Linked DNA regions of Homo sapiens. The protein of the gene in region 5 purifies or fractionates together with the protein of the main gene of each other region. This does not show direct contact. Each region holds a gene or a part of one and is shown on either strand. Other genes may lie near its edges.

Evidence for each region.
Region 1: the proteins of CDC45 (region 5) and KPNA7 purify together in Homo sapiens (co-immunoprecipitation; one large-scale study listed by IntAct). This does not show direct contact.
Region 2: the proteins of CDC45 (region 5) and NACC1 purify together in Homo sapiens (affinity purification with mass spectrometry; one large-scale study listed by BioGRID and IntAct). This does not show direct contact.
Region 3: the proteins of CDC45 (region 5) and MTMR4 purify together in Homo sapiens (affinity purification with mass spectrometry; one large-scale study listed by BioGRID and IntAct). This does not show direct contact.
Region 4: the proteins of CDC45 (region 5) and ACTR1A fractionate together in Homo sapiens (co-fractionation; one large-scale study listed by BioGRID). This does not show direct contact.
Region 6: the proteins of CDC45 (region 5) and DTD1 purify together in Homo sapiens (affinity purification with western blotting; one study listed by BioGRID). This does not show direct contact.
Region 7: the proteins of CDC45 (region 5) and POLD1 purify together in Homo sapiens (pull-down; one study listed by IntAct). This does not show direct contact.

The regions. Positions count from the first base shown.
Region 1 is NC_000007.14:99,194,342-99,198,489, reverse strand, and holds part of KPNA7 (importin subunit alpha-8), read left to right. Parts: intron 1-2,323; coding exon 2,324-2,406; intron 2,407-3,151; coding exon 3,152-3,420; intron 3,421-4,148. UniProt on the Homo sapiens protein: Functions in nuclear protein import.
Region 2 is NC_000019.10:13,134,616-13,138,455, forward strand, and holds part of NACC1 (nucleus accumbens-associated protein 1), read left to right. Parts: intron 1-584; 5' UTR 585-592; coding exon 593-1,538; intron 1,539-1,616; coding exon 1,617-1,790; intron 1,791-2,655; coding exon 2,656-2,761; intron 2,762-2,862; coding exon 2,863-2,960; intron 2,961-3,531; coding exon 3,532-3,791; 3' UTR 3,792-3,840. UniProt on the Homo sapiens protein: Functions as a transcriptional repressor. Seems to function as a transcriptional corepressor in neuronal cells through recruitment of HDAC3 and HDAC4. Contributes to tumor progression, and tumor cell proliferation and survival.
Region 3 is NC_000017.11:58,504,077-58,508,224, reverse strand, and holds part of MTMR4 (phosphatidylinositol-3,5-bisphosphate 3-phosphatase MTMR4), read left to right. Parts: coding exon 1-64; intron 65-905; coding exon 906-1,102; intron 1,103-1,353; coding exon 1,354-1,482; intron 1,483-2,641; coding exon 2,642-2,753; intron 2,754-3,250; coding exon 3,251-3,446; intron 3,447-3,736; coding exon 3,737-3,922; intron 3,923-4,004; coding exon 4,005-4,148. UniProt on the Homo sapiens protein: Lipid phosphatase that specifically dephosphorylates the D-3 position of phosphatidylinositol 3-phosphate and phosphatidylinositol 3,5-bisphosphate, generating phosphatidylinositol and phosphatidylinositol 5-phosphate.
Region 4 is NC_000010.11:102,492,491-102,496,638, reverse strand, and holds part of ACTR1A (alpha-centractin), read left to right. Parts: intron 1-4,148. UniProt on the Homo sapiens protein: Part of the ACTR1A/ACTB filament around which the dynactin complex is built. The dynactin multiprotein complex activates the molecular motor dynein for ultra-processive transport along microtubules.
Region 5 is NC_000022.11:19,486,169-19,490,316, forward strand, and holds part of CDC45 (cell division control protein 45 homolog), read left to right. Parts: intron 1-4,148. UniProt on the Homo sapiens protein: Required for initiation of chromosomal DNA replication. Core component of CDC45-MCM-GINS (CMG) helicase, the molecular machine that unwinds template DNA during replication, and around which the replisome is built.
Region 6 is NC_000020.11:18,758,610-18,762,757, reverse strand, and holds part of DTD1 (D-aminoacyl-tRNA deacylase 1), read right to left. Parts: intron 1-4,148. UniProt on the Homo sapiens protein: Possible ATPase involved in DNA replication, may facilitate loading of CDC45 onto pre-replication complexes. An aminoacyl-tRNA editing enzyme that deacylates mischarged D-aminoacyl-tRNAs.
Region 7 is NC_000019.10:50,390,676-50,394,823, forward strand, and holds part of POLD1 (DNA polymerase delta catalytic subunit), read left to right. Parts: intron 1-4,148. UniProt on the Homo sapiens protein: As the catalytic component of the trimeric (Pol-delta3 complex) and tetrameric DNA polymerase delta complexes (Pol-delta4 complex), plays a crucial role in high fidelity genome replication, including in lagging strand synthesis, and repair.

The DNA.
Region 1 (4,148 bases), on a different chromosome or scaffold from region 5:
TTTTTTCACATGTTAAACCACTCCTGAATTCCTGAGTTAAATCCTAATTCATCATGATGACCAATATGTTGACCATATGTTTCATACGTTTAGGCATTTGGTTTCCTCCTATTTTGTTGAATTTTTGCATCAGTAGTTATAAGGGATATTAGCTTATACTTTTCTTGTAATATCCTTGGTTTGGTATCAGAGTAATACTAGCCTCTAAGAATGAGTGAGAATTTTTTTTTGTAAAGTTGGTAAAGTTTTTTTGTTGTTGTTTTTTTTGAGATGGAGTTTTACTCTTATCACCCAGGCTGGAGTGCAATGCTGCAATCTTGGCTCACTGCACCTCAGCTTTTTGGCCTTGATGCTTTCTGATAAGAAATCAGCTGTTAATCTTATTGAGGCTTTGTACATGAATTGCTTCTCTTTTGCTGGTTTCAATGTTTTTGATTCTGTAGTTTTGGCTTTCAACAGTTAGATTATAATATGTCTGGATCTTGGGATTTATTCCGTTTGGAGCTCATTGAACTTTTCAGATGTGTAGACTAATTATTCTATTGGATTTGGGAATTTCTTTGGCCATTATCTCTTTAAATATACTTTCTGCCTCTTTCCCTCTTCTCCTTCCTATTCTGCATTTGTTGGTATCCTTGATGATGTCCCACAGATCTCTAAAGATCTGTCAATTTTCATCTTCAGTCTCTCTTGTGTGTGTTATCTTCCTCAGACTGGATAATTCCAATTAACCTATCTTCAGCTTCACTGCTGCTTTATTATGTCTGCTTAAATCTGCTGTTAAGCCCCTTTAGTGAATTTTTGTTTCAGTTATTGTATTCTCCAATTCCAGAATTTGTATCTGGCTCCTTCCAATAACTGATATCTGTTCACTGATATTCTCTATTTAGTGTGACAGCATTGTTGCACTTTAGTTCTTTAGTCATGGTTTAGTTCTTTGACTATATTTAAAATCTTTGTCTAGTTCAACATCTGGTCTCCTCAGGGACTATTGCTATTGATTGCTTTTTTCACATATATATGTATATGTGTGTGTCACACTTTCTTTGCTTGTCTCACAATCTTTGTTGAAAACTAGTCATTTAAAATAGTGTGACAACTCTAGAAATCAGATTTTCCATTGCCCCAGGGTTTGCTGTTGTTGCTGGGTGTGCTCGTTTAGTAGTTTGAGCTAATTATCTAAAATCTGTATTTTTTTGTGATGTGTGGCTGCTGCAGTGTCTGCTTGGTTTGCTCAGTGGTCAACTAATAATTAGAGACTTATTTTAACACTTCGAACCACGAAGAAAAGAACACTCAATTTTTGCCAAGAAGCTCTGTGTTGGGGGCATGCGTTCACCACTCAGCCAGGCAGTTGACAATTCTGACGTAAGCCTTCACTTCCTGTTTGCACAGAGCTTCAAAGTCAGTGAGAGGGAAGAGCTGAGGGTCTTAGTTTTGTTGTTGTTGTTGTTGTTGTTGTTGTTGTTTTTAAGCATATGCATAGCCCTATACATGACATTCCCTTTCAAGTTTTTTTGTTAGCCTGTTGTTTATCCCAACTCTTATTCAACCTCTCAGGTAGCTGTGAAGTTAAACAACTTCCTCTGTTTTCAATGAACATTCTTAGGGAAAAGCCTTTTCATACTGACTAAGCTCTGAGTCAAAATAGTCTGTAAGTGGGATCTTTCAGGGAATGACCAGACAGATCAAATAATAATTTTCTGGGAATGAGGCTCCAAAGGAGGACCTACCTATTTTGCCTCTTCTGGTGGTTGGGAGGCTGTTGGTTTTTCACAATGATTGTGGACTGTTGGTTTTCAGGGTTACCATGGAGCTGAGGGTGGGTGGGAATAGGGCAAGTCAAAATGCCACAAAGCTCTCATGCTACTTACTGAGATTCAGCTGTCTTTCTTGGATAAACACTTCCTGGCTTGAATAAAACAATTGGCCGCAAGCCTTTGGTCAATTTCTACAGTGCTGAAAAAGTTGATTCTATTTTTGTCAGTTTTCTCTTTGCCTATGTGGAGGAGAGAATTTTTTGGATGTCCTTAGTCTGCCATTTTGTTTTGTATCCACTAGCACATTCTTACTGCACGGGATAAAAATGTTCTTGGGATCCAACTAATGATAGGAATTACTTCTCCCCTAAGCATGGGAAGGAACACACAGATCTGTGAGATCTGTGGACTATATTCTCCCCTCCCCAAATATAGAACAGCATGCAAGATGGGACATCCTGTTCAAGCCAGGCTGTTTTAATCAGATGGATGATGGCTAGAGTAGGTGATGTTTACAGCTCATTTTGGCAGACAGTCTGACCTGAATGTGTCTCTTCTTGCAGGTCAGCCTCACTCTGGGTGAAATAATCAAAGGTGTGAATAGCTCAGATCCAGTCCTATGTTTCCAGGCCACCCAGACAGCCAGGTATCTCCAAACAGACTTCTGCTGTTGCAGGTTCATAGTTAGCAATGAGCGTCAGTGATGGCTGGAGCGCCGGTGGCCTATTTGGTTTCTTGGCATTGGCAACATGCCCGTAAAACACAGGAAAAGGCTAGCCCATCTAAAAGACGAAATTGCTATTCTACACTGTCCTTGAGGGCAATTTAAAAGCTTCGATGTGTTGTCAGAGATGAATTGCTTAATTTACATTGGCCTCTACAGAAATTTCATCTTGTAGATAACACCTTAAAGGGGAAAATGTTGATTTAATACCGAAAAATGCTATCGGTTGAACACTAGGATCTTAAGTAGCTCCGGCCCAGCTATGTGGCTTATGTATAAAAGGAGGTTCTTTTTTTCTCTTTTGAGATGGAGTCTCACTCTGTCACCCAGGCTGGAGTGCAATGGTATGATCTTAGCTCACTGCAACCTCCGCCTACTGGGTTCAAGTGATTCTCCTGCCTCAAGCCTCCAGAGAAGCTGAGATTACAGGTGTGCACCACCACACCCAGCTAATTTTTATATTCTTAGTAGAGATGGGACGGGGTTTCACCATGTTGGCCAGGCTGGTCTCGAACTCCTGACCTTGCGACCTCAAGTGATCTGCCCGCCTTGGTCTCCCAAAGTGCTGAGATTACAGGTGTGAGCCACCGCACCTGGCCTAAAAGGAGGTCCTTAATACCTCTCTCACTTGACCTCCCCCTCCCCTGCCCTCTCTTTCATTGCATAGGAAAATGCTATCCCAGGAAAAGAACCCCCCTCTGAAACTGGTCATTGAAGCGGGCCTCATTCCCAGGATGGTGGAGTTCCTGAAGTCATCACTTTACCCCTGCTTGCAGTTTGAGGCTGCCTGGGCCCTGACCAACATCGCTTCAGGGACTTCGGAGCAGACTCGTGCCGTGGTAGAAGGGGGAGCCATCCAGCCCTTGATTGAGCTCCTGTCTTCCTCCAACGTGGCTGTGTGTGAACAGGCAGTGTGGGCTCTTGGTAATATAGCCGGTGAGACTCTCCCCTTAGTGGGCTAAGAAAACGGGGCCAGGTGTGTGGGATACTATAAGGTTTCTTTGGGTGGTGGGGTATACTCGATGTCCCAGAACACTTTGCCATGTAAATACCTAGAAGTGCTGGCAAGGGTACAATGAGCTGTTTCCAAACTCAAAGCCAGGCCAGGCACGGTGGCTCACGTCTGTAATCCCAGCATGTTGGGAGGCCAAGGCGGACGGATCACTTGAGGTCAGGAGTTCAAGACCAGCCTGGCCAACATGGTGAAACCCCGTCTCTACTAAATATACAAAAATTAGCCAGGCATGGTGGTGCATGCCCTGTAGTCCCAGCTACTCGGGAGGCTGAGGCAGGAGAATCGCTTGAACCTGGGAGGAGGAAGTTGCAGTGAACCAAGATAACGCCACTGTACTCCAGTGTGGGCAACAGAGGGAGATTCTGTCTCAAAACACCAAAAGCCCTCAAATCCAAGTTTAGAGGCCAAATATTGAAGCTGAAACAGGATGATACAGTGTATACTGAAGCCACAGGCTAACTAGAGACATCTGCCAACACTAAGGTCCTACAGCCTCAGGGCTTCGTGGCTTCAAGAACAAGTCTTTGGCTTATGCAGTGTGGGAGTTTATGATAGACCCTTACATAACTCGGGACCCCAGAAGGACTCTGCCTTCAGTGGAAGTTGCTAAGGGAACGTGCCAAAAACAAAAACAAAACAACAACAACAA
Region 2 (3,840 bases), on a different chromosome or scaffold from region 5:
GCCTCAGCCTCCCAAAGTGCTGAGATTACATGAGTGAGCCACTGCGCCTGACCTCATGTAATTTCTTGAGTGGTCATTTAGTCATTATACAAACAGTGATTGAAGGGCATGTGCCCAGCACTGCAGACTCTGCTGCACAGTCAGATGACCCTGCCTTTCTGGCATTTCCATGCCAGTACCCTGAAGAGATACCATATATGTACCTGGTGCTTGCAATAGCTGGCACTCAGAGGTAGCACACTGTGTCCTAGCCACTCTTCCGAGCACTTAAGCATATTCAGTTACTCTTCAAGTACATATGAATAAGTATGCCTTTGCCCCCTCCTCTTTGCAAGGGATAGCGTGTGGCCACCCTGGTCTGCAGCTAGCTTAGCAGATTTGACCACATATTGTAAAAGTGAGTCTGTACCAGGACAGATAGGGTAGAGGGCTCTGTGTGGTTTAGCACCATGGTAGATTCCATCGTGCGGATGTCCCTCCAGCAGGGGAGGTCTTTGGGGCCAGGGCTAGGCCAGCACCCACATTTGCCGCCTGACCCCGTCCCTCCGTCTCTGTCTCTCCATTCCTCCCTGCCCCTCGTGCAGCCGCTGCCATGGCCCAGACACTGCAGATGGAGATCCCGAACTTCGGCAACAGCATCCTGGAGTGCCTCAATGAACAGCGGCTGCAGGGCCTGTACTGTGACGTGTCAGTGGTGGTCAAGGGCCATGCCTTCAAGGCCCACCGGGCCGTGCTTGCTGCCAGCAGCTCCTACTTCCGGGACCTGTTCAACAACAGCCGCAGCGCCGTGGTGGAGCTGCCGGCGGCTGTGCAGCCCCAGTCTTTCCAGCAGATCCTCAGCTTCTGCTACACGGGCCGGCTGAGCATGAACGTGGGCGACCAGTTCCTGCTCATGTACACGGCTGGCTTCCTGCAGATCCAGGAGATCATGGAGAAGGGCACCGAGTTCTTCCTCAAGGTGAGCTCCCCGAGCTGCGACTCCCAGGGCCTGCATGCGGAGGAGGCCCCATCGTCGGAGCCCCAGAGCCCCGTGGCGCAGACATCGGGCTGGCCAGCCTGTAGCACCCCGCTGCCCCTCGTGTCGCGGGTGAAGACGGAGCAGCAGGAGTCGGACTCCGTGCAGTGCATGCCCGTGGCCAAGCGGCTGTGGGACAGTGGCCAGAAGGAGGCTGGGGGCGGCGGCAATGGCAGCCGCAAGATGGCCAAGTTCTCCACGCCGGACCTGGCTGCCAACCGGCCTCACCAGCCCCCGCCACCCCAACAGGCTCCGGTGGTGGCAGCAGCCCAGCCCGCCGTGGCTGCGGGAGCAGGGCAGCCAGCCGGTGGGGTGGCAGCAGCAGGGGGTGTGGTGAGTGGGCCCAGCACGTCGGAGCGGACCAGCCCAGGCACCTCAAGCGCCTACACCAGCGACAGCCCTGGCTCCTACCACAATGAGGAGGACGAGGAGGAGGATGGTGGCGAGGAGGGCATGGATGAGCAGTACCGGCAGATCTGCAACATGTACACCATGTACAGCATGATGAACGTCGGCCAGACAGGTGAGGTGCCGTCCTGTCCCCCATCCCACCAGCCACCCCTGCTCCTCCTGCCACTCGCGTGCCACTCTCTCCCTGCAGCCGAGAAGGTGGAGGCCCTCCCGGAGCAGGTAGCCCCCGAGTCCCGAAATCGCATCCGGGTTCGGCAAGACCTGGCGTCTCTCCCGGCTGAACTTATCAACCAGATTGGGAACCGCTGCCACCCCAAGCTCTACGACGAGGGCGACCCCTCTGAGAAGCTGGAGCTGGTGACAGGTGGGCCGGTCTCGCCCCAGATCTCTCCCCTCCGCAGCTTTGGAGCCGGCTGGCCTGGGCTGGGCTGGGCAGCTGGTTAGGAGCCCCCAGCACCTCAGTTTCCCTATCTGTGCTGTAGTGTTGGTAACAGCCACCCTAAGGGTGGGGGCGTTGGTGAGATGGAGGAGCTGATACAGCAAGGCCTGGCCTCTAGGTTTCTGGCTTAAGGGGTCGGGGCGAGCATTGGCTATTATTGTTTGGCCGCATGGGTAGATTAGCTACTTCCCGGGCTCCTGTGAAGGCCAGCTACTACCTAGGTTAGGAATTTGGACAGTCACAGGGGCGAATGCCTGTAGTCCTAGCTACTCAGGAGGCTGAGGTGGGAGGATCCCTTGAGCCCAGGAGGTCAAGGCTGCAGTGAGCTGTGGTGGCCACTGCACTCCAGCCTGGGTGACAGAGTGAGACTTCATCTCTTAAAAAAAGAAGAAGAAGACTGTGTTTGGTCCTTGGGTCAGAGTGCCTAGGTGTGAGCCTCCACTCCCTGTTGGTCCTGCTGAGCTTGGGCTCATCTCTAGCTGGTGACAGCCAGCGTGCCCACCTCACACAGGCTTGCGGCACGACTGGCCACACAGCAGGCACCCCGAGGATGGTGAAGCAACCCTTTCTGTCCTTTCCTGAGCACTGATGAGGTTGGGGGAGCCCCAAGGAGCCTCCCCTGACTGCCCTTGGTGGGTAGAGATGTAGGGGAGAAGGTCCCTGGGTGAGTTTTCTTGGGACCCAGAGCCCAGCAGGGAGGGCCTGGGGTGTTCTGAGATGAGGCCTGGTATCATGGGGGCTGTGGCGGTTTGGGGGCACCCCAGGCCATCCTCCGGCTTCCTCTCACCAGGCACCAACGTGTACATCACAAGGGCGCAGCTGATGAACTGCCACGTCAGCGCAGGCACGCGGCACAAGGTCCTACTGCGGCGGCTCCTGGCCTCCTTCTTTGACCGGTAAGGCCCTTGCCAGAGCCCCAGGGAGGGGGGTGGGGTTTCCCCATGTCCCCCCCACCACCAACTTGAGCGCTGACTCCCTCCATGTCCCCTGCCCCCAGGAACACGCTGGCCAACAGCTGCGGCACCGGCATCCGCTCTTCTACCAACGATCCCCGTCGGAAGCCCCTGGACAGCCGCGTGCTCCACGCTGTCAAGTGTGAGTGTTGGCCCAGCTGGACGAGGCGTGGGCCCGGGGCACGCAGGTTGACGTTTTTTCCCAGCCTTGGCTCTCAGAGAGGGCTAGAGTTCAGTGTTGAGAAGCATTCTGGGGCTCATTCTAGCCTTGCTGGGAAACCGGCTGTGATTGCTTAGAGATTTCTTCGTGTTTGGGGGATGCACGTGCCGAAGGGAAGCCAGGGAGCCTGTGTCAGGCAGGAGGGTCTCGAACTCAGGGCAGTCTGGGAGGGATGAGGCAGCCAGACAGTGCTAGCCACTCGTCATGGGGGGCATCTAGATTTTCAAGTGACCACTCCCCGTTACTAAATTCTGGCAAATGATCCGAATTTTTCAAGAACACGGGGCCATCCCATCAAAACCAACACATCCCCACACATGGCTGAACTCAGTCCGGTGTAGGGTTGGGTGCACGTAGTGTGGTGTCCTGGCCGCGTGGCCTCACTCGTTTCCCCTTTGAGAGGGAGTCGCAGATGCTGTAGGGGAGCTGGTGAGTAGGCCTTGTGGGAGTCACCTGGCCCCCGTGCCAAGGCCGCACCCACCCTGCCCCACAGACTACTGCCAGAACTTCGCCCCCAACTTCAAGGAGAGCGAGATGAATGCCATCGCGGCCGACATGTGCACCAACGCCCGCCGCGTCGTGCGCAAGAGCTGGATGCCCAAGGTCAAGGTGCTCAAGGCTGAGGATGACGCCTACACCACCTTCATCAGTGAAACGGGCAAGATCGAGCCGGACATGATGGGTGTGGAGCATGGCTTCGAGACCGCCAGCCACGAGGGCGAGGCGGGTCCCTCGGCTGAAGCCCTGCAGTAACCCGCCCAGCCTCCCGCGGGGCCACACACTTCCCCTCCCAACACACACA
Region 3 (4,148 bases), on a different chromosome or scaffold from region 5:
ACAAAGAGCTGGAGAACGTGGCTTCCTTCCGCTCCTGGAAGCGGATTCCCGTGGTTGTGTATAGGTGAGGCAGTGGGGCTGGGAAGTAGGGAGGCCATTTCTTATGCAACAAGGAAAGAGTCAAAATTGGAGATTTTGGGTAACCTGGTTGACTGAGAATTGACACTCTATGGGGAAGTATGAAATAACTTTAAAACAAAAACTATCTTAGTTTTTTCTCCTAAGAATAAGGCTATTAGGGAGTTTATTCATTCCCCCCCTTTTTTTAGAGTGTGTGTGTGTGTGTGTGTGTGTGTGTGTGTGTGTATAAAATAGTACATTATTTTATACACACATTAGTACAGGGGTTGGCAAACTGGCCTGCAGACAAAATCTGGCTTATAGCCTATTATATAAAACGGCTTGTAAGCTGTGAGTGGTTTTTACATTTTTAAAGGGCTATTTTTAAAAAAAGCAAAGAAGAATACATGACAGAAACTGGTTGTGACCCACAAGGCCAAAAATTGTTGTCTGGTTTTTTACTGAAAATGTTTGCTGATCCCTGCACTAGAATATTGTAGCTAAAATAGAGTGAGACAGGAAGTAACCCTGAAGTTTGGAATTGTTCCTATTCTTGGCTCAGCCAGGCCTTGTTCTCCTGCTGGGTGTCTGTACCTGGAGCAGTTGCTGTGCAGATTTGATGAGTCAAGGTCACCTTGGACATACAGAGCCCATTTGAGAAAGTATGTGTGATGGTGCTTTGTAAACGGTGAAGCCTGCTAGTGACGTTGGGGCTTTTGGTTGCTGTTATGGCCTGGATGAGTTGGTAGCCCCTGCTGGCTCTAGAGACTTTGGTCTAACCCCCTGAGGTAGGCCTCTGGAGGCTTCGAATGCCAAGGGCATTACGGTTTCTTCTGTTTTGTCAGACACTTGCGCAATGGGGCTGCCATCGCCCGCTGCAGCCAGCCAGAGATCAGCTGGTGGGGCTGGCGCAATGCTGATGATGAGTACCTGGTCACGTCCATTGCTAAAGCCTGTGCCCTGGACCCGGGGACAAGGGCCACTGGGGGCTCCCTCAGCACCGGGAATAATGATACCAGCGAGGCGTGTGATGCTGACTTTGGTAAGGTGTGGATGATGCTAACCCCCCAGGGAGCAGGCCCCCTCCTTGGCTTCATTGGCTCCCAGGGAGTCCCCAGTGAGAGTCTGGGAAGATGACAACACACGGGGTGCTGGGGTCCCTGCCTTGTCAGAAGCTGTGGGGTATGAGGGGTCTCTAGTTGCATGTTCTGCCTTCTGAGAGGGAGTGCCAGAGGGCCAGCAAGAGGTTGGGTGGCTGGCTGACTCAGGGACTCCTTCCTGCTGTGTGTTTAGATTCTTCTCTGACTGCGTGCTCTGGAGTGGAGAGCACAGCAGCTCCTCAAAAGCTGCTGATCCTGGATGCGCGATCCTACACGGCAGCAGTGGCCAACCGGGCCAAGGGTGGAGGCTGTGAATGTGAAGGTATTGCTGTTATCCCAGTGTCTGCAGCCAGCCTGTGCTCTGGGTGGCTTTGGTGAGGAGGGGGTTGGGGGCCATTTGTATAGTGGAAAGAGCCCAAACAAACCTGGCTTGTAATCACAACTTTGCTACCTACTAGCTATGGCTATGACTATGCTGAAGTTGCTTAATCTGTCCAAGCTTTATTTTCTCTTCTATAAGAAGGGGATGTTACACACTTTGCAAAATTGTTGGGATGATTAGAAGTTGCATATGTAGGCTGGGCCCAGTGGCTCATGCCTGTAATCCCAGTACTTTGGGAGGCAGAGGCAGGCGGATGGCTTGAGCTCAGGAGTTTGAGACCAGCCTGGGCAACATGGTGAAACCCTGCCTCTATCAAAAATACAAACCATTAGCTGGGCATGATGGTGCATGCCTGTGGCCCCATCCCAGCCACTTGGGAGGCTGAGGCATGAGAATCGCTTGCATCTGGGACGCAGAGGTTGCAGTGAGCTGATATCATGCCACTGCACCTCTAGCCTGGGTGACCATGAGACCCTGTCTTAAAAAAGAAAAAGAAGTTGTATATATAAAATTATTGCCACAGAGCAGCTACTATTTATTGAGAATTGATTATATATTGTCTTTCTAAGTACTGCTATCATTTGTCATTACTGTTACTATTATTAATATATGGCACCTGAGTCTCCAGAGATACAAGTGTGATTCAGATTTCAAGACTGTATTTAGTTCCTATCCTGGAGTGCTCTGCCCTGCCAGGAAAGCTTTGTCCACCAGGACCACTCTTGTCCTGGATGCCTGTTTCCAGGACGTGCTTTTTTTGTTTGTTTGTTTGTTTTGAGACGGAGTCTCGCTCTGTCGCCCAGGCTGGAGTGCAATGTGCCATCTCAGCTCACTGCAACCTCCATCTCCCAGGTTCAAGCAATTCTCCTGCCTCAGTCTCCCGAGTAGCTGGGATTACAAGTGCCTACCACTATGGCCAGCTAATTTTTATATTTTTAGTAGAGATGGGGTTTCACTGTGTTAGTCAGGCTGTTCTTGAACTCCTGACCTCAGGTGATCCAACCGCTTCAGCCTCCCAAAGTGCTGGGATTACAGGTGTGAGCCACCGCGCCCGGCCTAGGACGTGCTTTTATGTCCCACTCTCCTGTCATGTCTACAGAGTACTATCCCAACTGTGAGGTCGTGTTCATGGGAATGGCCAACATCCATGCCATCCGGAACAGCTTTCAGTACCTCCGGGCTGTGTGTAGCCAGATGCCGGATCCTAGCAAGTAGGTGTTCCCTACTTGGATTCCTTCCAGTCTCATTCCTTACCCAGTACCTCTTATTCTTGGAAGATTAGATGGGGAGATGAGAAGTTTGGAGAGCAGGAGACCTGAGGGCCTGGGTGGAGTTGGGTGCCGTGGGCTAGTTCCAAGAACCCTTCCACTTCTCAGCCAACACTTTGGCGTGGTCACAGGACATGGATTCCTTTCGTTTGGATCAGTTGTTCTACTCAAAGAACACAGAGAACTGGGGAGAGGAAATGGCTGAGTGTGCATGTGATGCTTCTCAGTTCCTCTTTTGAGCTTCAGATGCTTTTATCTGCTGTAGGTCCTGTCTTCCCTACCTTCCTGCTAGATACCTCTTGTCCAAAAGGCCCTGGGTTGTACCTCTTGGTTTCAGTTCTCAATGGGGACTTTGTTGGGTGGGGCTGGCTGTGGATGGTGGAGAGACTGCTGTGGCCTCAGCACCCTTTGTGACCGACTTGATGTCTGCTTTTGTGTAGCTGGTTGTCGGCACTGGAGAGTACCAAATGGCTGCAGCACTTGTCGGTGATGCTAAAAGCAGCTGTGCTGGTGGCTAATACAGTAGACCGGGAAGGCCGGCCTGTGCTGGTACACTGCTCAGATGGCTGGGACCGCACACCGCAGATCGTAGCCCTGGCCAAAATATTACTGGACCCATATTACAGGACGTTGGAGGTATTGAGAGGAATTCGGTGGGAAAACCAGAAGGAATGTGGCAGGAGGGAAGGTGTTGAGCCCTCTGGATCTGTCCTGGGGATCTTTCAGTAGAGGACATTGGTGGCTCTTTTTTTCTTTTTTTTTCCAACTCCCAAAGGCTTGGAAAATTGGTGGCTTTGAGTCCTCTTCTAGGTCCAGTCCTATTTTTCTTTGAAGCTGCCAGCTTCCTGCTTTGGGCAGTTCCCAGGGGAGTAGCACATCAGCATTTCCAGAGAGGCCCTATGTTTGAACAGTTTCTTTTTTTGCAGGGCTTCCAAGTGTTAGTGGAGTCTGACTGGCTGGATTTTGGGCACAAGTTTGGAGATCGCTGTGGCCACCAAGAGAATGTGGAGGACCAAAACGAACAATGCCCTGTGTTCCTCCAGTGGCTTGATTCTGTTCATCAGTTGCTTAAGCAGTTCCCCTGCCTGTTTGAATTTAATGAAGCATTCCTGGTAAGTCCTAAGGCCTGTGACAACAGGGATGGGGGGAATGACAGCCCGAGGCCCCCAGGTGCAAGCTCTCTCTGCTTTCTAGGTAAAACTGGTGCAACACACATACTCCTGCCTCTACGGCACCTTCCTGGCCAACAACCCCTGTGAGCGAGAGAAGCGCAACATCTACAAGCGGACCTGCTCTGTGTGGGCGCTCCTTCGAGCTGGCAATAAAAACTTTCATAAC
Region 4 (4,148 bases), on a different chromosome or scaffold from region 5:
GGCTGTTGGTTGTACAGCTTCAGCAAGAATCCATCCCTAGCTTGACAGAAAAGGTGAAGAAGAGGTGACTTATAAAGATATTTTCACTGTTCAATTATGTATATTTTGCAAGCCAAGGATGTGCTTCACACTGAGCTAAGTCCTCTGAGGGTAAAAAAGAAATCAGATACCATGTGGAAGAAGAAACGTCACCAATTAGTGGCTGCAAATGCCTAGAATAGGGATTTCAAATTCAATGCCTGCAGAGGCCAAGCAGGAATGGAAATATACTCAAAAGAGAAGAGAGAGAATAGCCTGAAAGGCACCTCTTCCAGGCTGGGAAATCTGAAAGGTGCATTGAATTGAGCATGCCTGACCAAAATGTTAACTGATTCTCCTTTCTATCCAATTGTCCCCATGCAGGAATACCGGCCTAGTGTTGCCAGATATTCTGATTTTTAAAAATTTGTGTATTTATCGAGGTCAGGAGATCGAGACCATCCTGGCTAACATGGTGAAACCCCGTCTTTATTAAAAATACAAAAAATTAGCCAGGCGTGGTGGCGGGCACCTGTAGTCCCAGCTATGCAGGAGGCTGAGGCAGGAGAATGGCATGAACCCGGGAGGCGGAACTTGCAGTGAGCCGAGATCTCGCCACTGGACTCCAGCCTGGGCAACAGAGCGAGACTGCGTCTCAAACAAAAACAAAATAAAATAAAAATACAAAAAAATTAGCCAGGTGTGGTGGCAGGCGCCTGTGGTCCCAGCTACTCGGGAGGCTGAGGCAGGAGAATGGCTTTGGACCCGGGAGGCGGAGCTTGCAGTGAGCCGAGATCACGCCACTGCACTCCAGCCTGGGCGACAGAGCAAGAGTCCGTATCAAAAAAAAAAAAAAAAAAAAAAATTGTGTATTTATTTATTTATTTATTTTGAGACGGAGGCTGTCTCTGTCGCCCAGGCTAAATTGCAGTGGCGCAATCTCGGCTCACTGCAACCTCCCCCTTGTGGGTTCAAGAGATTCTCCTGCCTCAGCCTCCCGAGTACTGGGACTATAGGCACGTGCCACCACACCCGGCTAATTTTTTTTTTTTTAGATGGAGTCTCGCACTGTCGTCCAGGCTGGAGTGCAGTCGCGCAATGTCTGCTCACTACAAGCTCCGCCTCCTGGGTTCACGCCATTCTCCTGCCTCAGCCTCCAGAGTAGCTGGGACTACAGGCGCCCACCACTTCACCCGGCTAATTTTTTGTACTTTTAGTGAAGACGGGGTTTCACCGTGTTAGCCAGGATGGTCTCAATCTCCTGACCTCGTGATCTGCCCGCCTTGGCCTCGCAAAATGCTGGGATTACAGGTGTGAGCTACTGCGCCTGGCCTTATTTTGAATTTTTTGTATATATTTTTTGAGGCAGAGGCTCACTCTATCGCCCAGTCTGGAGTGCAGTGGCAAGATCACAGCTCACTGCAGCCCTGACCTCTTGGGCTCAGCCTCCCAAGTAGCAAGGACTATGGACCCGCACCACCACACCCGAGTAATTTTTAAATATTTTGTAGGCCTGGTGTGGTGGCACATGCCTGTAATCCTAGCACTTTGGGAGGCCAAGGCGGGTGGATCACTTGAGATCAGGAGTTCGAGACCAGCCTGGCCAACATGGTGAAACCCCCTCTACACTAAAAATACAAAAATTAGCCGGGCGTGGTGGCGCACACCTGTAACAACAACTACTCAGGAGTCTGAGACAGGACTATCGCTTAAATCCAGGAGGCGGAGGTTACAGTGAGCCGAGATTGTGCCACCGCACTCTAGGTGGGTGACAGAGCCAGACTCCATCTCAAAAAAATTAAAATTAAAATTAAAATTAATATTTTGTAGAGACAGCGTTTTGCCATGTTGCCCAGGCTGGTCTCTCGAACTCTTGGCCTCAAGCAATCCTCCCTCATCTGCCTTCCAAAGTGATGGGGTGACAGGCGTGGGCCACCGCACCCAGCCATACTTTTTGTTTGTTTGGTTGGTTGGTTGGTTGGTTTTGAGACAGGGTCTTATCTTACTCTGTCATCCAGCCTGGAGTGCAGCAGTGCAATTACAGCTTGCTGCAGCCTTGACCTCCCAGACTCAAGTGATCCTCCAACCTCAGCCTCCTGAGTAGCTGGGACCACAGGCACACAACCACCATGCCCAGCTAATTTTTGTATTTTTGTAGAGACGGGGTTTCGCCATGTGCAGGCTGGTCTCGACCTCCCGGGCTCAGGCAGTCTTCCTAGCTCAGCCTCCCAAGTAGCTAGGAGTACAGGCACACATCACCATGCCTGGCTAACTTTTTGGTATTTTTTGTAGTGATGGGGTTTCTCCATTTTGGCCAGGCTGGTCTCAAACTCCTGGCCTCAAAGTGATTTGCGTGCCTCGGCCTTCCTAAGTGCTTGGATTATAGGCATGAGTTACCACACCCAGCCAAGACTACTCAAGAAGCCTCTACCAGGCATTTTTTCATTTGGCCTTGCCAGAGTGAATAACAAAGACAGTGGCAGCTTATTTGCCAGGTACACAGTTCCTAGTTGTAAATACTGTTAAAGAAATGGACATAACCCTTTTGTATGCTCTTGAGCAGAATTTGTGTGGCTTGAGCAGAATTGAGGCAGCTCAGCTGCTCCTCATTCTCCACTGATTCTTCACCCTATGACTGGCATGGCAGGCCTGCTTGGGGGCTGCAAGGACACGCTGGGTCTGGTTCCACCTTGTGCATCACTCCCAGTGCTGCTTTCCCCTTTGCTGAACCGCCTCTGCCTGGGGCTTCTGTCATTTCAGCTGGTCATTCAGGTTCCATACTTTAGGTTCTATCTGCCAGTCATTTGCACTTGATTTTAATTTTACTCAGCCAGCATCTGTTGAGTACCCAGCAAATGCCAGATACTGCCAAAATGTATTTTAGCCTTAAGGAACTTCAACTGAAAAGAGACGAAAGTGGAAACCTTACATTGTAATAAAAAGCAGAATGAAGTGCATGCCACCTCGTGGTACAGGTAATGGAAATTTGCTGTGAGATAATAGGAAGATGATCATTCATTCCAACTGGGGATGTTTCTTCAGGAGGAAGGTGATGATATTTGAACTGGGCTTTTTATACTCTTTGCTAGGAAGGACAGAGAAGAAAAAACAAATCTGACTTCATAATCTGCCTGTTTACCCAGACTCTAGTCCTTTTGCTAGTAAACTAAAAATAAAATACCCAGGAAAATCATCTCTTAAAAATATCCAGGGTCTGAAGGACAGATCTCATCCTCTCTTGTTTTTAACCTCTGCCGGGAGACCCAATTAGTCTGTTGGCATCACCACACCCAGATGAAGGCAGTGAGCAATCATTGGAAGCCTGAGCAAACAAGTTCTAGGAGTTCCCCCCTTGCCTGTCCGTGCCTTGCTCTCAGAGCCCTTGGGTTTGTAGGCAAATTGCCCCTCCTTCCCAGTCTTTCAGCTCACTTGACAGCTGCACCTTTTCCAGGCTCCTTGTTGTACTGCCCAGTCCAATGAGTTTGCACATTGTCTTCTGTTTTCACTCTCTTCTGTTGGCAAAGATTCCTGCTCCCTTAGAGAACTGGCTGCCCTGCTCTCCTCTCATACCACTTTCTCTGCCCTTCAACCACTTCTTTTTTTTTTTTTTTTTTTTTTTGAGGTGGAGTCTCACTCTGTCTCCCTGGCTAGAGTGCAGTGGTGCGATCTTGGCTCACTGCAACCTCCACCTCCTGGGTTCAAGTGATTCTCCTGCCTCAGCCTCCCTGAGTAGCTGGGATTACAGACGTGTAGCACACCTGGCTAATTTTTGTATTTGTAGTAAAGACAGTGTTTTGCCATGTTGGCCAGGCTGGCCTTGAACTCCCTGGCCTCATGTGATCTGCCCCGCTTCGGCCTCCCACAGTGCTGGGATTACAGGCGTGAGCCACCACACCTGGCTTCCTTCAACCACTTGCTTCCTCCACCAACCTCTGTCTTGCCAAAGGCAAGCACCAGATGGCCAGTCTCACTCCCCCTCTTCCTGCAGAAGAGCAGGAATAAGAGAGTCAAGGAGGGAAGCAGGCATGTTGCTGGGAAGCCTTTGGTGCAGATAACCTTGGCTACTTAGAGTCTCCAGGTGTGTTCAGTGCTTGTAGAATGAGGTCAGTAAATACCACACTCCACCCCAG
Region 5 (4,148 bases):
GCACTGCCACAGCCAGCCAGAAACCATGATATTCTACACATTCTTTCATAAGCAGCTCCTAAGAATAAGGACATTCTTCCCCATAAACACAATGCCATTGTCATACATAAGAAATTAATAATATCCTAATATCATGTAATATTCAGCCCATATTCAGGTCTCTTTAATTGTCCTCAAAATATATTTTGCAGCTATTTTTATTTCTGAACTATTCTCCAATCAAGATTAAGACATTTAGCTATTCCTCTTTACTGTCTTAACCTAGAACCATACCTTACCTCTTTTTTTTCTTTTGTTTTTAATGACATTGAAGGCCAGTTCTCTTTTCTAATATTTACTACTACTTGTTTCTTCATGGAGTACTTTAACTTGCTTCTCTATCCCTGCATTTTCTATGATCTGTAAATTAGGTCTAGAGCGTTGATTTTAATAACATTAAGCATTCTTGAGAAGAATACTTTTTATATAATTAAAACCTGTGCATGATTTATAACTAAGTATGTGTATATTAGAGGTATATATATATTTTTTTGAGACGGAGTCTCGCTCTGTCGCCCAGGCTGGAGTGCAGTGGTACGATCTCGGCTCACTGCAAGCTCCTGGGTTCATGCCATTCTCCTGCCTCAGACTCCCAAGTAGCTGGGACTACAGGTGCCTGCCACCACGCCCAGCTAATTTTTTATATTTTTAGTAGAGACGGGGTTTCACCGTGTTAGCCAGGATGGTCTCGATCTCCTGACCTCATGATCCTCCCACCTTGGCCTCCCAAAGTGCTGGGATTACAGGCGTGAGCCACCGTGCCCGGCTGCTTTTTAGAGGTATATTCTTAGAAATATTTTTACCAGCCTGGTGTGGTGGCTCAAGCCTGTAATCCCAACACTTTGGGAGGCCAAGGCGGGTGAATCACCTGAGGTCAGGAGTTTGAGACCAGCCTGACCAACATGGAGAAACCCTGTCTCTACTAAATACAAAAATTAGCCAGGAGCAATGGCAGATGCCGGTAATCCCAGCTACTCGAGAGGCTGAGGCAGGAGAATTGCTTGAACCTGGGAGGCGGAGGTTGTAGTGGGCCAAGATCACGCCACTGCACTCCAGCCTGGGCGACAGAGCAATACTCTTGTCTCAAAAAAAAAAAAAAAAAAAGAAATATTTATACCAGACTGGACAACATAGCAAGACACTGTCTCTACAGAAAAATAAAATAAAAATTAGCCAGGCATGGTAGCATGGTCACATAGGCCCGGCTACTTGGGAGGCTAGAGTGGGAGGATGCCTTGAGACCAGGAGGTTGGTTGAGGCTGCAGTGATCCATGATCACATCACTGCACTCCAGCCTGGGCAACAGAGCAGGACCTCATCTCTTAAAAAGAAAAGAATGAAATATTTTTATTAATAAGGGTGCACATTCAAAGAGGTTTAGAGACAATAGGTTATAAATAATTGTTTTAAGGAGTTCTGCTATAGGCCGGGCGTGGTGGCTCACGCCTGTAATCCCAGCACTTTGGGAGGCCGAGGTGGGTGGATCACGAGGTCAGGAGATTGAGACCATCCTGCTAACACGGTGAAACCCCATCTCTACTAAAAATACAAAAAATTTCCCGGGCATGGTGGCAGGAGCCTGTAGTCCCAGCTACTCAGAAGGCTGAGGCAGGAGGATGGTGTGAATCCAGGAAGCAGAGCCTGCAGTGAGCTGAGATCCACCACTGCACTCCAGCCTGGGCAACAGAGCAAGACTCCGTCTCAAAAAAAAAAAAAAAAAAAAAAGAGTTCTGCTGTAAAGAAAAGAGGAGACATGGGGTCGAGAATCATTTTTACTTGTCTTTTAAAGGTTGGATGTTAGAGCTGGACCCCAGCAAAGATGAGAGTCCGCTATAAAAATAACCATAATTATACTTAATCTACAGGTGCTATAATATCGTGGCTCAGGTCACGGGTTTCAAATTTTGTATCTGCTATAACAGCTTTGTGACTGTAGGCAAGTGACTTAACCTCTGTGTGCCATTGTAAAATAAGGAGAATAACTAGACTTAATTGTTTTGGTTCCTACTGATGTTTAACAAATTACTCCAGAACCTAGCAGCTTAAAACAACCTTTTCCTTATGCTCATGGATTCTGTAGGTTAGGAATTTGGGCAGAGCCCAGTGAGGATGACATCTTTTTGATCTGTGATATCTGGGCCCTCAGGTGGGGACTCAATGGCTAAGAACTGGAAGCATGGCTCAGACATCTGCTGGGAGGGCTCCAAACCAGGACTACTGAGCCAAGCACCTGCAGGGTCTCTCCATTGAATGTGACTTCCTTACAACATGACTGCTCAGGCTTCCAGCATGAATATTCCAGTCACCCGGGCAGCCACTGCATGGCTCTCCCGACCAGCCTTGGAGTACCTCAGCATCCAGTAGCCACAAGGGAGGGGACAGGACCCCACCATGCATTGTGGCAGGGTCAAAGAAATCTCAGGCTGTGGGAATTTTGTTACTTTATTGAGGCATAATGTCTACACAATTCACTAGGTGGTACAATTCAATGAGATTTAACAAATGTATAAAGATGCAACCACCATCCCACCATGATAGAGAACAATTCCATTACCCGCAAAAAGTTTCCTCACCAGGACCATGGCTTTTTTTTAATTAAAGTTTTTCTTTTGAGATAATTACAGATTCACATGTAGTTGTAAGAAGTAATATAGAGAGATCACTTATATACTTTGCCCAGCTTCCCCCAATGGTAAAATCCTGTAGTATAATATCACGGTCAGGATGGGAGGCTAAGGCAGGCGGATCACTTGAGCCCAGGAGTTGGAGACCAGCCTGGGCAACATGGCAAAACCCTGTCTCTACAAAAACTACAAAAATTAGCCAGGTGTGGTGGTGCACACCTATGGTCCCAGCTACTTGGGAGGCTGAGGTGGGAGAATCACCTGAGCCCAGTAAGTCGAGGCTGCAGTGAGCTGTGAGCACACAACTGCATTCCAGCCTGGGCAACTGAGACTATCTCTAAAGAAAAGAAAGTCTCCTTTCTAAATTTATAAATCATGTGATTTTTCAGTTGGCACTCTAAAGGTTAGAAATCACTGTGAAAGTTCTGCCAGAAACTGAATATGTCTATTCCATTTATGCATTCAGAAACTGCCAAAATAACCCATGGGTATTGCTTTAAAAAAAAAAAAAAAGATACAGAACATTTCCAGCACTGTAAGGATCCCTCTGTTGCCCTTTTATAGCCACACCCACTTGTCTGCTGCCTGGTAACCACTAGAGAGCTCCATTTCTGTAATTTCATTTCAACAATATTATGGAAATGGAAATGGAATTATACAGTATGTAGCCTTTTGGGATTGGCTTTTTTTCGCTCTGCATAATTCTTGGAGATTCATCCATGTTTGCTTGTATCAATGGCTCATTCCTTTCTCGTCCATCAGCATTGTGCAGTTTTCAGTGTATAAATTTTCTGTTTTTGTTAGATTTATACCTGCATAAAAACAAACAATATTTATTATTTCTGCGTGCTAGCCATAAATACGTGGACACCAAAATTTAAAATACAGTATCATTTGCAGTCAGTCAAAAAAATGCATAGTCTGCTGTTGTTGGGTAGAGTTTTTTAGAAATGTCACTTACATACTGAGAGTTGGTGGTGGTGTTGAGTTCTGTTTGCTTGCTGCTTTTCTGGCTAGTAATACTTTCAACTCTTCAGAAAGGGACATTGAAGACCCCAACTCTGATTATAGATTTGTTTGTTTCTCCTTCCAGTTCTATCACTTTTTACTTCACGTATTTATAGCTCTCTTGTGCGCACACATTTAGGATTGTGGTGTCCTTTTGGTGGATTGACCCTTTTATTCACTTAGTGTCCCACTCTGTCTCTGGTAATTTGCTTTGCTCTGAAGTGTGATTTATCTGATATTAATATTGCCACTCCTGCTCTCCTTTGATTAATGTTTGCACGATATATCTTTTCACATTCTTTAGTTTCATTCTGCCTATATTGTTACATTTGTAGTGAATTTTTTAAAACAGCATACAGTTGGCTCATATTTTTAAATCATGTTTTTTAAAGCCATTCTCTATCTCTTAATTGATAAACTTAGCTTACTTACATTTATTTTAGTTACTGACATGTTAGGGCTTAAGTCTGACATTTT
Region 6 (4,148 bases), on a different chromosome or scaffold from region 5:
TGGTCAGACTTACCCAGAAAAGAGAGAAGACACAAATTATCAATATCAGGAATCAAAGAGGCAACATCAGTACAGACATTACAGACATTAAAAAGATAAAAGGAATATATCACAAGCAACTTTCGACTCACAAATTAGACAACATAGATGAAATGAACAAATTCCTAGAAAAGAGATATAAAAGCATGATTTCCAAATCATTTTAACAATGAGGGAGGTAGAGGGATGGGAGCTTAAGGAAATGCAGGGACAGGGAGGGAATAAACTAAATGCTTAGTCTTGCGACATTTTAAATACTACTCAAAGGATGCCTGGCTGTTTGGTACAGAAGTCCAAGTGTCTCAGGGTTTCCTTTTGTAATTCCGAGGCTATAACAAAAACCAGCTAGTATTGCCGAGATCTATGATGCATGCATTTGTCATCCAAAAGTTAAACTAAAGCTAAAGCCTAACAGAAGAGTTTCTATTCCCTCAGATCTAGATTCTAATTGGATGGACTTCAGTAAAAGCAAAAGATTTCAATACGACTCAATATGCCATGGCAGTGCCACCTCCATGGATGTGCTTCCTGATACACTCAGTGCAGGCCACCTTCTTAAGAAAGGGTTGTATCACAAGCAGATGCTTCCATAGACTAACAGCCCTCATTCCCCTGCCCAGCTGGATAGCGAAGTCCCTGTGCACACATGAGAAAGGCAAGCTGGAACCACAGCTAGCCCATGCTCTGCAGCTCTGTCTGCCACCATATCCCCAAGGGCTACCCTCGTACACCCAAACCCACCTGTAAGAGTCCTGCACACCTTCCTAAGAGTTTTCTAAAAGACAACCAGTGGGTGGAGAACAGACAACATCATTCCTGGGGACCATATTACTTTCAGTTTTTAGCTATTAGAAACAACCCATTTGTTCTTACATTGTGTGGATGATGTTAACCCAAGTTACGGACCTGGGGACTATTCATACTTGTTTCCCTACCTTCAATACCAATAACTGAAATACTGTAATTGTTCCCCACATTGACCTTTGAGAAACTCCATCTTCTTGGCACAGATTAAAATCTTTGTTTTTGAACTTAAGATGAGCTTTGGAATCCTGGTTGAACGTATTTTTCTTTTACATTTACTTCAATTAAATATTCTACAATATTCTACATTTTTAATGCATTGGGATAATTTAGTCTTCAAATATTTGATGTGCAGATGGAAATTATAAAGCTCACAGTAAAAGAATGACCTAGAGAAATGTTAAAGATATTCTGTTAAAAGATAAAAAACAGGTGACACTATATATATACAGTATGTCTCCAACTTTGTAAAGTTAGAGAAACAGATGTAGAATTACCTGTTTAGAAAAAGTATTCCAAAGCATTATGTTAATAATAATTATCAGAGGTGGAGCCAAGATGGCCAAATAGGAACAGCTCCAGTCTACACCTCCCAGTGTGAGCCACGCAGAAGACGAATGATTTCTGCATTTCCAACTCAGGTACAGGGTTCATCTCACTGGGGATTGCTGGACAGTGGATGCAGGACAGTAGCTGCAGCACACCGAGCAGGGCGAGGCATCGCCTCGCCCGGGAAGCGCAAGGGGCCAGGGAATTCCCTTTCCTAGCCAAGGAAAGGGGTGATAGACAGCACCTGGAAAATCGGGTCACTCCCACCCTAATAATGCGCTTTTGCAATGGTCTTAGCAAACGGCACACCAGGAGATTATATCCCGCGCATGGCTCTGAGGGTCCTACGCCCACAGAGCCTCGCTCATTGCTAGCACAGCAGTCTGAGATCAAATTGCAAGGTGGCAGCAAGGCTGGGGGAGGGGCGCCCACCATTGCCGAGGCTTGAGTAGGCAAACAAAGCGGCCGGGAAGCTCGAACTGGGTGGAGCCCACCGCAGCTCAAGGAGGCCTGCCTGCCTCTGTAGACTCCACCTCTGGGGACAGGGCACAGACAAACAAAAGGCAGCAGAAACCTCTGCAGACTTAAATGTCCCTGTCTGACAGCTTTGAAGAGAGTAGTGGTTCTCCCAGCATGCAGCTTGAGATCTGAGAACAGACAGACTGCCTCCTCAAGTGGGTCCCTGACCCCTGAGTAGCCTAACTGGGAGGCACCGCACTGTAGGGGCAGACTAACACCTCACACGGCCGGGTACTCCTCTGAGACAAAACTTCCAGAGGAACGATCAGGCAGCAACATTTGCTGTTCACCAATATCCACTGTTCTGCAGCCTCCACTGCTGATAGCCAGGCAAACAGGGTCTGGAGTGGACCTCCAGCAAACTCCAACAGACCTGCAGCTGAGGGTCCTGACTATTAGAAGGAAAACAAACAAACAGAAAGGACATCCACACCAAAACCCTATCTGTACGTCACCATCATCAAAGACCAAAGGTAGATAAAACCATAAAGATGAGGAAAACACAGAGTAGAAAAACTTAAAATTCTAAAAATCAGAGCACCTCTCCTCCTCCAAAAGAATGCAGCTCCTCACCAGCAATGGAACAAAGCTGGACAGAGAATGACTTTGACGAGTTGAGAGAAGAAGGCTTCAGATGATCAAACCACTCCGAGCTAAAGGAGGAAGTTCGAACCCATGGCAAAGAAGATAAAAACCTTGAAAAAAGATTAGACGAATGGCTAACTAGAATAACCAATGCAGAGAAGTCCTTAAAGGACCTGATGGAGCTGAAAACCACGACACGAGAACTATGTGACGAACGCATAAGCCTCAATAGCCAATTCGATCAACTGGAAGAAAGGGTATCAGTGATGGAAGATCAAATGAATGAAATGAAGCGAGAAGAGAAGTTTAGAGAAAAAAGAATAAAAAGAAACGAACAAAACCTCCAAGAAATATGGGACTATGTGAAAAGACCAAATCTACATCTGATTGGTGTACCTGAAAGTGACGGGGAGAATGGAACCAAGTTGGAAAACATGCTGCAGGATATTATCCAGGAGAACTTCCCCAATCTAGCAAGGCAGGCCAACATTCACATTCAGGAAATACAGAGAACGCCACAAAGATACTGCTCGAGAAGAGCAACTCCAAGACGCATAATTGTCAGATTCACCAAAGTTGAAATGAAGGAAAAAATGTTAAGGGCAGCCAGAGAGAAAGGTTGGGTTACCCACAAAGGGAAGCCCATCAGACTAACAGCGGATCTCTCGGCAGAAACTCTACAAGCTAGAAGAGAGTGGGGGCCAATATTCAACATTCTTAAAGAAAAGAATTTTCAACTCAGAATTTCATATCCAGCCAAACTAAGCTTCCTAAGTGAAGGAGAAATAAAATACTTTACAGACAAGCAAATGCTGAGAGATTGGTCACCACCAGGCCTGCCCTAAAAGAGCTCCTGAAGGAAGCACTAAACATGGAAAGGAACAAAGGTACCAGCCACTGCAAAAACATGCCAAATTGTAAAGACCATCGAGGCTAGGAAGAAACTGCATCAACTAACGAGCAAAATAACCAGCTAACATCATAATGACAGGATCAAATTCACACATAACAATATTAACGTTAAATGTGAATGGGCTAAATGCTCCAATTCAAAGACACAGACTGGCAAATCGGATAAAGAGTCAAGACCCATCAGTGTGCTGTATTCAGGAAACCCATCTCACGTGCAGAGACACACATATGCTCAAAATAAAAGGATGGAGGAAGATCTACCAAGCAAATGAAAAAACAAAAAAAGGCAGGGGTTGCAATCCTAGTCTCTGATAAAACACACTTTAAACCAACAAAGATCAAAAGAGACGAAGAAGGCCATTACATAATGGTAAAGAGATCATTTCAACAAGAAGAGCTAACTATCCTAAATATATATGCACCCAATACAGAAGCACCCAGATTCATAAAGCCACACAATAATAATGGGAGACTTTAACACCCCACTGTCAACGTTAGACAGATCAACGAGACAGAAAGTCAACAAGGATATACAGGAATTGAACTCAGCTCTGCACCAAGTGGACCTAATAGACATCTACAGAACTCTCCACCCCAAATCAACAGGATATACGTTCTTTTCAGCACCACACCACACCTATTCCAAAATTGACCACATAGTTGGAAGTAAAGCACTCCTCAGCAAATGTAAAAGAACAAATTACAACAAACTGTCTCTCAGACCACAGTGCAATCAAACT
Region 7 (4,148 bases), on a different chromosome or scaffold from region 5:
AACAAGTGAACAAAAGTCTCTGGTTTTCCTAGGCAGAGGGCCCTGCGGCCTTCCGCAGTGTTTGTGTCCCTGGGTACTTGAGATTAGGGAGTGGTGATGACTCTTAAGGAGCATGCTGCCTTCAAGCATCTGTTTAACAAAGCACATCTTGCACCGCCCTTAATCCATTTAACCCTGAGTGGACACAGCACATGTTTCAGAGAGCACGGGGTTGGGGGTAAGGCCGTAGATTAACAGCATCCCAAGGCAGAATTTTTCTTAGTACAGAACAAAATGGAGTCTCCTATGTCTACTTCTTTCTACACAGACACAGCAACAATCTGATCTCTCTTTCCTTTCCCATTTCCCCCTTTTCTATTCGACAAAACCGCCATCGTCATCATGGCCCGTTCTCAATGAGCTGCTGGGTACACCTCCCAGACGGGGTGGCGGCCAGGCAGAGGCGCTCCTCACATCCCAGACGGGGCGTCGGGGCAGAGGCGCTCCCCACATCTCAGACGATGAGCAGCCGGGCAGAGACGCTCCTCACTTCCTAGACGGGATGGCGGCTGGGAAGAGGCGCTCCTCACTTCCCAGACTGGGCGGCCAGGCAGAGATGCTCCTCACTTCCCAGACGGGGTGGCGGCCGGGCAGAGGCTGCAATCTCGGCACTTTGGGAGGCCAAGGCAGGCGGCTGGGAGGTGGAGGTTGTAGCGAGCCGAGATCACGCCACTGCACTCCAGCCTGGGCACCATTGAGCACTGAGTGAGCGAGACTCCGTCTGCAATCCCGGCACCTCGGGAGGCCCAGGCGGGCAGATCACTCGCGGTCAGGAGCTGGAGACCAGCCCGGCCAACACGGCGAAACCCCGTCTCCACCAAAAAATACAAAAACCAGTCAGGCATGGCGGTGCGTGCCTGCAATCCCAGGCACTCAGCAGGCTGAGGCAGGAGAATCAGGCAGGGAGGTTGCCGTGAGCCGAGATGGCGGCAGCACAGTCCAGCCTCAGCTCGGCATCAGAGGGAGACTGAGAGGGGGGAGGGGGAGGGGGAGGGAGAGGGAGAGGTCTTTTTTTTTCCCACTCCCCCGCTCTTGTTGCCCGGGCTGGAGTGCAATGGCGCAATCTTGGCTCACTGCAACCTCCGCCTCCCAGGTTCAAGCGATTCTCCTGCCTCAGCCTCCCAAGTAGCTGGGATTATAGGCGCCCGCCACCATGACAAGCTAATTTTTGTATTTTTTTTAGTATAGACGGGGTTTTCACCACGTTGGCCAGGCTGGTCTTAATCTCCTGACCTCAGGTGATCGGCCTGCCTCAGCCTCCCAAAGTGCTAGGATTACAGGCGTGAGCCACTGCACCTGGCCCATCATTTTACTTTTTTAATCCAAGTTCTAACCTAGGATAACACACATTGTCATGGCAACTTTTTCATTTTTTAAGACATGTCTTGCTCTCTTGCCCAGACTGTATTGCAGTGGTGCAGTCATGGCTCACTGCAGCCTTCACCTCCCAGGTTCAAGTGATCCTCCCACCTCAGTCTCCCAAGTAGCTGGGACTGTAGGTATGCACCACCATGCTTAAGTAATTTTTAATTTTTTGTAGAGATTGACTAATTTTTAATTTTTTGTAGAAATGGAGTCTCACCATGTTGCCTAGGCTAGTTTCTAACTCCTGGCCTCAAGTGATCATCCCACCTCAGCCTCCCAAAGTGTTGGGATTACAGACGTGAGCCTCCTAGCCCAGGCAACTTACTTTTTCATGACATCGACAGTTTTAAAGATTACAGACCAGTGTTGTCACCCCTCACCTTGGATTCGTTTGTTTCTTTTTCTTGTTTTGTTTTGAGACAGAGTCTTGCTCTGTCACCCAGGCTGGAGTGCAGTGGCGTGATCGCAGCTCACTGCAACCTCTGCCTCCCAGGTTCAAGTGATTCTCCTGCCTCAGCCTCCCAAGTAGCTGGTATTACAGGCACCCACCACCACGCCTGGCTAATTTTTGTATTTTAGTAGAGATGGGGTTTCACCATGTTGGTCAGGCTGGTCTGGAACTCTTGACCTCAAGTGATCCACCCTCCTTGGCCTCCCAAAATGCTGGGATTACAGGCGTGAGCCACTGCACCCAGGCTGTTTGTTTCTTAATGACTAGAATCAGGGTAAACGTTTTCTTAGACATTGTTTTTCAACACAAAAGATAAAATTGTGAGTGCACCACTGTGCATCTTGCTTTATCTACTGAACAATGCCTCTTTGAGAACCTTCCCTATCAGTACACAAAGAGCTTCCTCATTCCTTTACACAGTTGCATAGTATTCCATTGAACGGACTTAACATATTTAAATAGCCCCCTGGGGGAGGACAGTTAGGTGGTTTCCAGTCCTTGGGGATTTCAAACGATGCTTCCGGAAATAACCTTATAAATGCAGTTTTTCTTATGTGATAATATATCTACAGTGTACGTCCCTAGATGTGGAATTGAGCCTCCAAACTTTTATGTTTATAATTGAGGTGGCATTTACATGGCGTGCCATGCCCAGGTCTCCAGTGTACAGTCAGCTGTATAGTGTGTTTTATCACCCCAGAAACCCCCTCATACCCTTCCCAGTCTCTCCTACCCTAGGAGCAGCCACTAGTCTGATTTCTAGCGCTGTAGATCACTTTAGTGTATTCTACAACTTTGTCTAAATGGTATTGTACAATTTTTATGGAGGTAAAATTAGCCATTTTAAAGCAAACAATGGCTGGGCGTGGTGGTTCATACCTGTAATCCCAGCACTTTGGGGAGGCCAAGGCAGGCAGATCACTTGAGCCCAGGGGTTTCAGACCAGCCTCAGCAACATGGCAAAACCCGTCTTTACCAAAAAACAATTGGCTAGGCATGGTGGCACGCATCTGTCTTCATAACTACTCAGGAGGCCAAGGTGGGAGGATCACCTGAGCCCGGGAGGTCAAGGCTGCAGTGAGCTGAGATCATGCCACTGCACTCTAGCCTGGGCAACAGAGTGAGATCCTGTCTCAATAAAGAGAGAAAGTAATAATAAAGCAAAGAATTCAGTTGGTACGTTCACAGTGTTGTACAACCATTACCTCTGTCTAGTTTCAAAACATTTCATCACCCCTACAGAAAACCCCATACTCCGTAAGCAGTCACTCCTCATTCCCCCAGTGTGCACTTTGCCTTCTGCACAGCCTGCTTTCAAGATTCATCCGTGTTGCATGTCTGTCAGGAGCTGGCCCCTCTCTAATGCTGAGTGTCTGTTATGAACCTCCCTGAACATTTCTAACATATACTCCATCAGTTCAGAATTTTTCCATGCTTATTTCAGGTCTAAGCTGTTGTACCAAGGAGCCCCCAAAACACAGTGGCCCAAGAAAGATACAAATTGATTTCTCCACATAACGCTTTGGAAGATAGGCAAGTGTGCAGGGTTGGCAGACAGCTTTGCTCTGGAAGGTTGTTGGGGAGCCCAGTGTTGTCCCTGTCCTTGTGGTTGGCTCTCCCACTACATCCATGTTCCAGCCACTGTGACGGGGAAGAGGGTGGGAGGATGTCCCAGTAGCTGCACACCTCATGATCACTCTCATTCCTGGAGGGAGAACTTAGTCACGTGGCCCTCCTGGCAGCGCACACTGGGAAATGTAGCCTTTGGCTGGGCAGCCTGTGGCCACTCCGGACACGCAGGGTTGGAGGGGTGTGTTCTATTGCAAAAAAGCAAAGCAAAGCCGGGCGCGGTGGCTCACACCCATAATCCCAGCACTTTGGGAGGCCGAGGCGGGCGGATCATCTGAGGTCAGGAGTTCCACACCAGCCTGGCCAACATGGTGAAACCCCATCTCTACTAAAAATACAAAAAAAAATTAGCGGGTATGATGGTGGACGCCTGTAATCCCAGCTACTCGGGAGGCTGAGGCAGGAGAATCGCTTGAAGCCAGGAGGCGAAGGTTGCAGTGAGCCGAGATCAGCCACTGCATTCCAGCCTGTGTGACCGAGTGAGACTCCGTCTAAAAAAAAAATAAGTAAAATAAAAAGGCAAAATGAGGACTGGATATGGGGCAACCGTTATGAGATCCAGGGATAGACAGCTGACCTGCTCACCTGCCTCTTCCCAGCCGCATCTAGGATCTGCCCTAGGTTCCAGTAATCCCCTCTGTCTCAGCCTGGACCCTGGGGGACA